2 linked regions of the Homo sapiens genome follow. The protein of the gene in region 1 purifies or fractionates together with the protein of each later gene. This does not show direct contact. Each region holds a gene or a part of one and is shown on either strand. Other genes may lie near its edges.

Evidence for each region.
Region 2: the proteins of CEBPZOS (region 1) and NDRG2 purify together in Homo sapiens (co-immunoprecipitation; one large-scale study listed by IntAct). This does not show direct contact.

What each region holds. Positions count from the first base shown.
Region 1 is NC_000002.12:37,194,896-37,199,371, forward strand, and holds the start of CEBPZOS (protein CEBPZOS), read left to right. Parts: upstream 1-1,600; 5' UTR 1,601-1,625; exon of another isoform or gene 1,626-2,455; intron 2,456-3,598; exon of another isoform or gene 3,599-3,777; intron 3,778-4,476.
Region 2 is NC_000014.9:21,015,967-21,019,174, reverse strand, and holds the end of NDRG2 (protein NDRG2), read left to right. Parts: intron 1-14; coding exon 15-59; intron 60-360; coding exon 361-412; intron 413-511; coding exon of another isoform or gene 512-548; intron 549-653; coding exon of another isoform or gene 654-670; coding exon 671-718; intron 719-935; coding exon 936-971; intron 972-1,136; coding exon 1,137-1,188; intron 1,189-1,412; coding exon 1,413-1,579; 3' UTR 1,580-2,403; downstream 2,404-3,208. UniProt on the Homo sapiens protein: Contributes to the regulation of the Wnt signaling pathway. Down-regulates CTNNB1-mediated transcriptional activation of target genes, such as CCND1, and may thereby act as tumor suppressor. May be involved in dendritic cell and neuron differentiation.

The sequences.
Region 1 (4,476 bases):
CTTTCCTTCCTTCCTTCCTTCCTTCCTTCCTTCCTTCCTTCCTTCCTTCCTTCCTTCCTTCCTTCCATTTTTGAGACACAGTCTTACTCTGTCGCCCAGGCTGGAGTGCAGTGGCACGATCTTGGCTCACTTTAACCTCTGCCTCCTGGGTTCAAGCAACTCTCCTGCCTTAGATTTCCGAATAGCTGGGATTACAGGCATGCTCCACCTCACCCAGCTAATTTTCATATTTTTAGTAGAGATGGGGTTTCTCCTTGTTGGCTAGGCTGGTCTTGAACTCCTGACCTCAGGTTATCTGCCCACCTTGGCCTCCCAAAGTGCTGGGATTACAGGTGTGAGCCACCGCACCAAGCCCCAATAGCTTTTTCATCTTGCTTTGTCATCCTGGTACTTTTAACACTGATATTCTGGTATTTCAAACCAATGTAGTGGAGCCTTGCTATATGGTCTGAAAGTTTTTGTTCTCCCTAAATTCATATGTTTTTCACAATTTATGATGCTTTAGTTACACAGATGAACCACATGGGCTGGACTAGGGGTGGGGCGGGTGTTAGGAAAATTGGGGCAATCACAGAGCACCTTGCAGAGGCACTTCCTTTACTTGGCGTGGACAGAGTTAGCTCCAGCTATCACCCCTTCTCTAAAACCTTTACAGATTCCTCGGATTAGAAGCAAGGCCCTTATCATTGTGTACTTTCCATCAGTTATTTGTGGTAAATACCCCTAACTAGACTAGAACTTCGATGAAGGTAGATCTGTGCCTGTTTTGGGTGTTCCAGGCTTTGTCTTGCACACGGTACTTCAATATACTTTTATATTCTTTTTCTCTTCTCTGTTTCCATGTCCCCTTCGCGCTTTCTCAAGTGTTACTTTGCAAACGAATTCTTTAGGGATCTGGCTAAAATGCAGTTTCAGATTCAGTAGTTCTGCATTTTTTTTTTTTTGAGACAAAGTCTCACTCTGTCGCCCAGGCTGGAGTGCAGTGGTGCGATCTCAGCTCACTGCAACCTCCGCCTCCCGGGTTCAAGCGATTCTCCTGCCTCAGCCTCCCCGGTAGCTGGGACTACAGGCGCATGCCACTACGACCAGCTATTTTTTTTTAAACGTATTTTTAGTAGAGACGGGGTCTCACCGTGTTAGCCAGGATGGTCTCGGTCTCCTGATGTCGTGATCCTCCCATCTAGGCCTCCCAAAGTGCTGGGATTATAGGCGTGAGCCACCGCGCCCGGCCTAGTTCTTCATTTCTAACAAGTTTTCAGGTGATGCTTATGTTGGTAGTCCTCTGAGACTATCACACTTTAAGTTTCAGGGTGTTAGAAAAACGACCCAGAACAGGCTACACGTAGTCAGTTTCCTGGGTTTAAATGTGAATTCTGATTTTACTAACTGCGATTGTGGGCAGTGTAAGCCTCTTGCTTTCTCCGTAAAATGAGATACACTCAGCACCTGTTGCATGTGTTATTGCGAACATTCCGTAAAATAATGTACATAGAGGGCAGTCAGGTTCGGGTCGCGGTCAGAGTACAATTAATAGTAATTACGAATGTGGGGGCGGAGCCGACAACGGAAGGGGTGGAGCGTCGCCAACCGTTGCGCATGCGCAGTCCCCCTTGAACGCACCTCAGGTAAGACTCTGGCGAGTGGCTTCCCATGGGCGGTCGGATTTCGGGGTCCCTAGTGCGACGAGAGTGGGGCGGTCTTCTGCGTGGGGCCTCGTCACAGTTCTGGGGGCATGTGGAGGATAGTCAGGTGTCACTGCCTTAATTCACTGGAGGCGAGTGTTTCCGGGTCGCTAGGCGGCCGTGGTCTGGCGGCCGGGCCGTGCTCCGTGCGTGCCCGCGCGTGTCGCCTGCAGGCCCGGGCCTAGCGTTCCGCGGGCTAGGGGAGAGCTGAGGGCAGCCGAGGGCACCAGGGAACCGGGGGAAGCGGGAGCTGGGTGGGACCGCGGCAGGAGCCGGGAGCCGGGGGAGCGGAGGCGGCCAGCTCTCGGCCTCTGTTGAAAAGTCGTCCTCTGCACAGCTAGGCTGGGAGAGACGTTGCTGCTTGAAACCGCGTAGCCTGCAGACGCTAAGCTGGGAGGCCGCCCCGATTCCCTGGAGCGCATCCCGGGATAAGGGGCTTCCGACCCAGCATTGCACATTTGGCTTGAGCTTGTGTCCCCGAGTCAGCGTCTCAGCCCCGTGTGATGTTAACTGCATGACACACAGCCCTGCGCCGAATCTGTCAGAGGCGGCTTCGTGTTAAACTTCACCTAAACTTCCCGGAATGATGCCTTTCCCTGTGCCGAGAAGGCAGGCGCTGGTCTGCCGTGTCTCCCTTGCCGCAGCTAGTAAACCTCACTTCTTTGTGGGTGGACAGGTGTATCCCTGGTGGTCTGTAGCAAAGGAACTTGAAGTTTTATCAGCCTCCTGAAGCCGAGAGCCTCAGTGCAAAACGTATATGTATTTTTAAAAAGGTAAATACTTTGTTGTACGGTGTTATTTGGAGGCAGCTATGCTCACCACTATACACCAAGGCAGCCGTACAGTATTATTCGCACTTTATTTTCTTTTCTTTTAACCCTGGCCTACAGATGGACTTTATTTCTTAGCACCACCCTCTCTTAAAACAAAATTTTACTTCGATTCCTTGAATAATGGAACTGGCTGCAGGCGGTCTTTGTTCATTCCTTGAACATTAAAAATAACCCCAAGAGGCCGGGCGTGGCGGCACACGCCTGTAATACCAGCACTTTGGGAGGCCGAGGCGGGAGGATCACTTGAGGTCGGAAGTTAGCCTGGCCAACATGGTGAAACCTCATCTCTACTAAACATACAAAAAATTAGCCAGACGTGGTGGCACACGCCTATAATCCCAGCTACTCGGGAGGCTGAGGCAGGAGAATCACTTGAACCCGGGAGACGGAGGTTGCAGTGAGCCAGGATCGCACCACTGCACTCCTGCCTGGGAGACAGCAAGACCCAGTCTCAAAAAAATAAAAATAGGCCAGGCGCGGTGGCCCACGCCTGTAATCCTAGCACTTTGGGAGGCCGAGGCCTGTGGATTGCCTGAGCTCAGGAGTTGGGGACCACCCTGGGCAACAGGGTGAAATCCGTCTCTACTAAAATACAAAAAATTTGCTGGGCCTGGTGGCGGGAGTCCCAGCTCCCAGCTACTGGGGAGGCTGAGGCAAGAGAATTGCTTGAATCCGGCAGGCGGAGGTTACAGTGAGCCAAGATCGCGCCACTGCACTCCAGCCTGGGCGACAGAGCGAGACCGTGTCTCCAAAAATAAAATAAAAAAAAAATAACCCCAAGAGAGGCATCTGTACTGAGCATGACTTACTTTCTGTCAGTCATGTACAGCATTGTAGTGAATGGAGCAAAACAACTGTCCCTTCCCACCACTCAACTGCCTCTTAGTTATATATGAATTACTTTGTAAATTTCTTTGCTTCATTTCTTTTAAATAAGAATAATAAAGTTTTAATCTTTTGGTCCCCAGGGTGATCACATTATTAAAATGAGGGAATTTGGGGGGTGGTGGGGAGGGCCACCTGGTAAGATATCAGCAGAATAATCCTACAAAAGGAAGGTTATTTGATTACACCCACCCTCAGGCATTGAAAAGGGGTCGGAAGTGAATGGAGTAAACACCTGACAGCAGCGAGCTGGGATTGAGAACAAAAGAGCACACACAGGACAATAGAAAAATCTGAAAAACAAGTGGTTCTCCTCTTCTGGACTTTGAGGTTATAAGGAGGCTGACTAAAAACTTGGGTTTACATTAATGTCTTCAGTAAGTCTTATATTCTATTTTCTTAGCTTATCTTTAATTTGAAAAAGAATAATGACACAAACGCTTTTTCCTGATTAGCTTTTAAAGGAAGACAATCAAGATCTAACCGGTCTGTAGTTTTGCCACTTAACTGGTTCATCACCCAATCAGTTTCCATCCCCTGCCCCCATTTGTATAAAAATTACTGCGTGTCTGCGAAAGGGCAGATTACTGGCTCATGCCTGTAATCCCAGCACTTTGGGAGGCTGAGGTGGGCGGATTGCTTGAGCTCACGGGTTCGAGACCAATCTGGGCAACATGGTGAGACCCTGTGTCTACTAAAAATACAAAAAATACAAAAAAATAGCCAGGCATGCCAGTGGTCCCAGCTGCTCGGGAGGCTGAGGTGGGAGGATTGTTTGAGCCCAGTGAGCTGAGATTGTGCCACTGCACTCCAAATGCCTGAACTATGGCACAGTTTAGTATATGTTGTATTAATAGTTTAGTATATGTTGTATTATTAGTATGTATCAGTATATAGGATATCTATACTATCTATAATATATAGTATATGTAATAGTGTATGTTGTATTAATAAATGAAGAACTCCAGCCCTTTAGAAAGTGTAGAACCACTTGAGAAAGATCTTACTTTTGTACGGCACTTTACAAAGAGCTGTTTATATATTGTATCCATTTAGATTATTTCTTAACTCCCAGT
Region 2 (3,208 bases), on another chromosome or scaffold:
TAACCCCTTTCTAGCCGCCGAGACCTGAACTTTGAGCGTGGAGGTGATATCACCCTCAGGTAAGACTTTAAGAGATAATGCATTGCCTGTCTCCCTGGATCTTCCCTAGGAGCTTGTGTCCCTTAGAAGAAGGAGAATCTTTTGCCAGGGAACTTCCTTGTCATGTCCCACCCCATCCTATTTGGTAAATCACTTCCCTCTAGGTCTTCCCCCTTTGAATCCTCTTGGTGGCATCAGCAGGGAGACACAGAAGTGTCTTTCCTCTTTGGAGCCAGATATTTTTCCAGCTGCACTCCTAGGCAGAGGCCAGTGAGGGAGTGCCAGGGGCTCACTGCCTTCTCCCCAACACTGTGTCTTTAGGTGTCCTGTGATGCTGGTGGTAGGAGACCAAGCACCTCATGAAGATGCAGTGGTTAGTAGGGAATTTTGGGGTGAGTGAGGGAGGAGGGTTGGGGTCCTAAAGTGGTGGTCAGAAGAGTATCTTGCCAAGGGGATGTCCTGTTTGGCACAGGGAGATCAACTTTGGGGCACTAAGAATTTGATTCCTGGTAAGGAGGAACTGGGTAGGGAGCTGATAGAAAAGGGACTGGGGTCTGGGTTCCTGGGTCCCTTACGGGGGAGGCGCCACAGTGGGCGTGACCTCATTCATTCAGCCTCCTGCTTACTCCAGGTGGAATGTAACTCAAAACTGGACCCCACCCAGACCTCGTTCCTCAAGGTCAGTAACCTGTTCCTGGGCCCCCGTCCACAGTCATATATCCTCTCTACATGCAGCTGCTAAGCCTCCAGGGCCCGGCATGGGAGCAAATGGGGTGAACGAAGAACAAAACAAAGGGGCTAGAGTGAAGAAGCTAGGGAAGAGAGACCCTTTCCACCTCTCTGCATGGCTCATTTATGTGTGTTTCACTTTTTCTGGGTGGTGCTCTCCTGAACAGATGGCTGACTCCGGAGGTCAGCCCCAGCTGACTCAGGTGAGTGCCGCTGCCGTCCATGGGATGGGGAAGGGACATAGGATACCGGTGGCACTGGGCTCTGCCCTTTGCCACACACCCGGCCCCACAGTGCCGCAGCCTCAGGCTCCAGCTCTTCCTCTAACCTCATCTCACCGTCTCCCTCGCCTCTTCTTACTTCCGCAGCCAGGCAAGCTGACCGAGGCCTTCAAGTACTTCCTGCAAGGCATGGGCTACAGTGAGTATCGGGACAAGAGCTTGCTGCACTAGAGGAGAGATAGGCACTGACGGGGTGGAACCGTTTTAGGTGAATGCCTGGACTCACCGCTATCTGCCCAATCGAGCTCGTTGATCCCCTGGCTTAGTTATAACTAGTCCATAATCCAAGGACCACACCCTGAGTCGCCAGCCCCCCTTCCCCACTTCCTCTCTGACTGCTTGTGCATCGTGCTGTCTCCACAGTGGCCTCATCCTGCATGACTCGCCTGTCCCGGTCTCGTACAGCCTCTCTGACCAGTGCAGCATCCGTTGATGGCAACCGGTCCCGCTCTCGCACCCTGTCCCAGAGCAGCGAGTCTGGAACTCTTTCTTCGGGGCCCCCGGGGCACACCATGGAGGTCTCCTGTTGAATGGCCCTTGTTGCCCTAGAGTGGGACCCAGCCCTCACCTCCCCCAGAGCTAACCTGGGAGGTGCTGAAGGGGCATTGGGCCACCGTAAGCAAGGGAAAAAGGGCAGATCATGCGGGGAGATGACCTTGATCTTTGATTGCTACCCTAACCTTGACCTTTAACCCGTGATTCCCCCCAGCTCCTGGAAGAGATGTCCTAATATCTCTTAGGGACCCAGACCCCTAAATTCTCCTCCTCCCCCATTTTGATGTTAAGGTGGAGAGGGCATATGCATCCTCTGTCCTGATCTAGGTGTCTATAGCTGAGGGGTAAGAGGTTGTTGTAGTTGTCCTGGTGCCTCCATCAGACTCTCCCTACTTGTCCCATATTTGCAAGGGGAGGGGATTTGGGGCTGGGGCTCCATTCACCAAAGCTGAGGTGGCTTCTCATTAACCCTTTAGGACTCTGAAGGGTATGGACCTACGTGAATGTGTGTCAGGGGGAGACTTGCTGGTGGGTTAGTGGTCCTCAGGATGTGATAGAAACATCCAGTGTAAAAAGGAAGTTGGAATGGGAGTTGGCGGGCAGTGAACGAGTGTGGGGAAGGATTGGTGCTGGGGCAACAGGAAGGGGCCTGGGGCCGTTTGGCTGCACTAACTTTGGTAGCTCAGTGTGCATCTAGAGTGGGACTGGGGAGGGAGCTAAGCTTGGGCTGGGCTGCTTGGGGCTTGGCATAGGGTGGAAAGGGCTACCCTGGGGCTCTGACCACACTGTAGTATGTGTGGAGGGTGCCCTCCCGTCTCCCACAACTTCTGCTATAACAATAAACTGTAGAGGAATCTGAGTACCGTTATTATTCTTTGTCTAGGTGTGCCTGCATCATGCTCCTCTTCCTATCTTCTCCCTGTCCACGTCTCATATTCTCTTCTCAAAGTGATATAAACCCTGGGAGAGGGCCTTTGTGGCATAGGCACTTCACAAAATATGACCACATAGAAACTGGCTCTTTTCCAATACAACGGTGTTGCCTTGATATTGTAGTATTTTTAAGCCTGGGAGAGAGGAACCATTTAGATCTTAGGAGACTTCCTTATCAACTATGGGTAACTGAGAAAGGCCACAGGATTTCAGAGATACCACCAACATCACCACCTTTAAGAAAGAATTGAAGAGGCTGGGCAAGGTGGCTCGCATCTGTGATCCCAACACACTTGAGAAGCTGAGGTGGGCAGACCACTTGAGCTCAGAAGTTTGTGACCAGCCTGGGGAACATGGTGAAACCCCGTCTCTGCAAAAAATACAAAAATTAGCTGGGCTTGATGGTGCACACCTGTAGTCCCAGCTACTAGGGAGGCTGAGGTGGGAGGATCACTTGAGCCCAGGAGGTGGAGGTTGCAGTGAGCCACGGTCACACCACTGCACTCCAGCCTGGGCGACAGAGTGAGACTCCATCTCAAAAAAAAAAAAAAAAAAAATTGAAGAAGACTGATGACAGAAGTGCCCAAGGATATCTTGAGACCCACCTTCCTGTAGGATCCTCCCTAGGGGGTCACCTAGATTCCATTTTGGATGTTTTAGTGCAATCAGTAGACCAGGGTGCATGAACTTAACTGTAAGGGGTGGGCTGCTCATAGTTCATTCTGATCTGA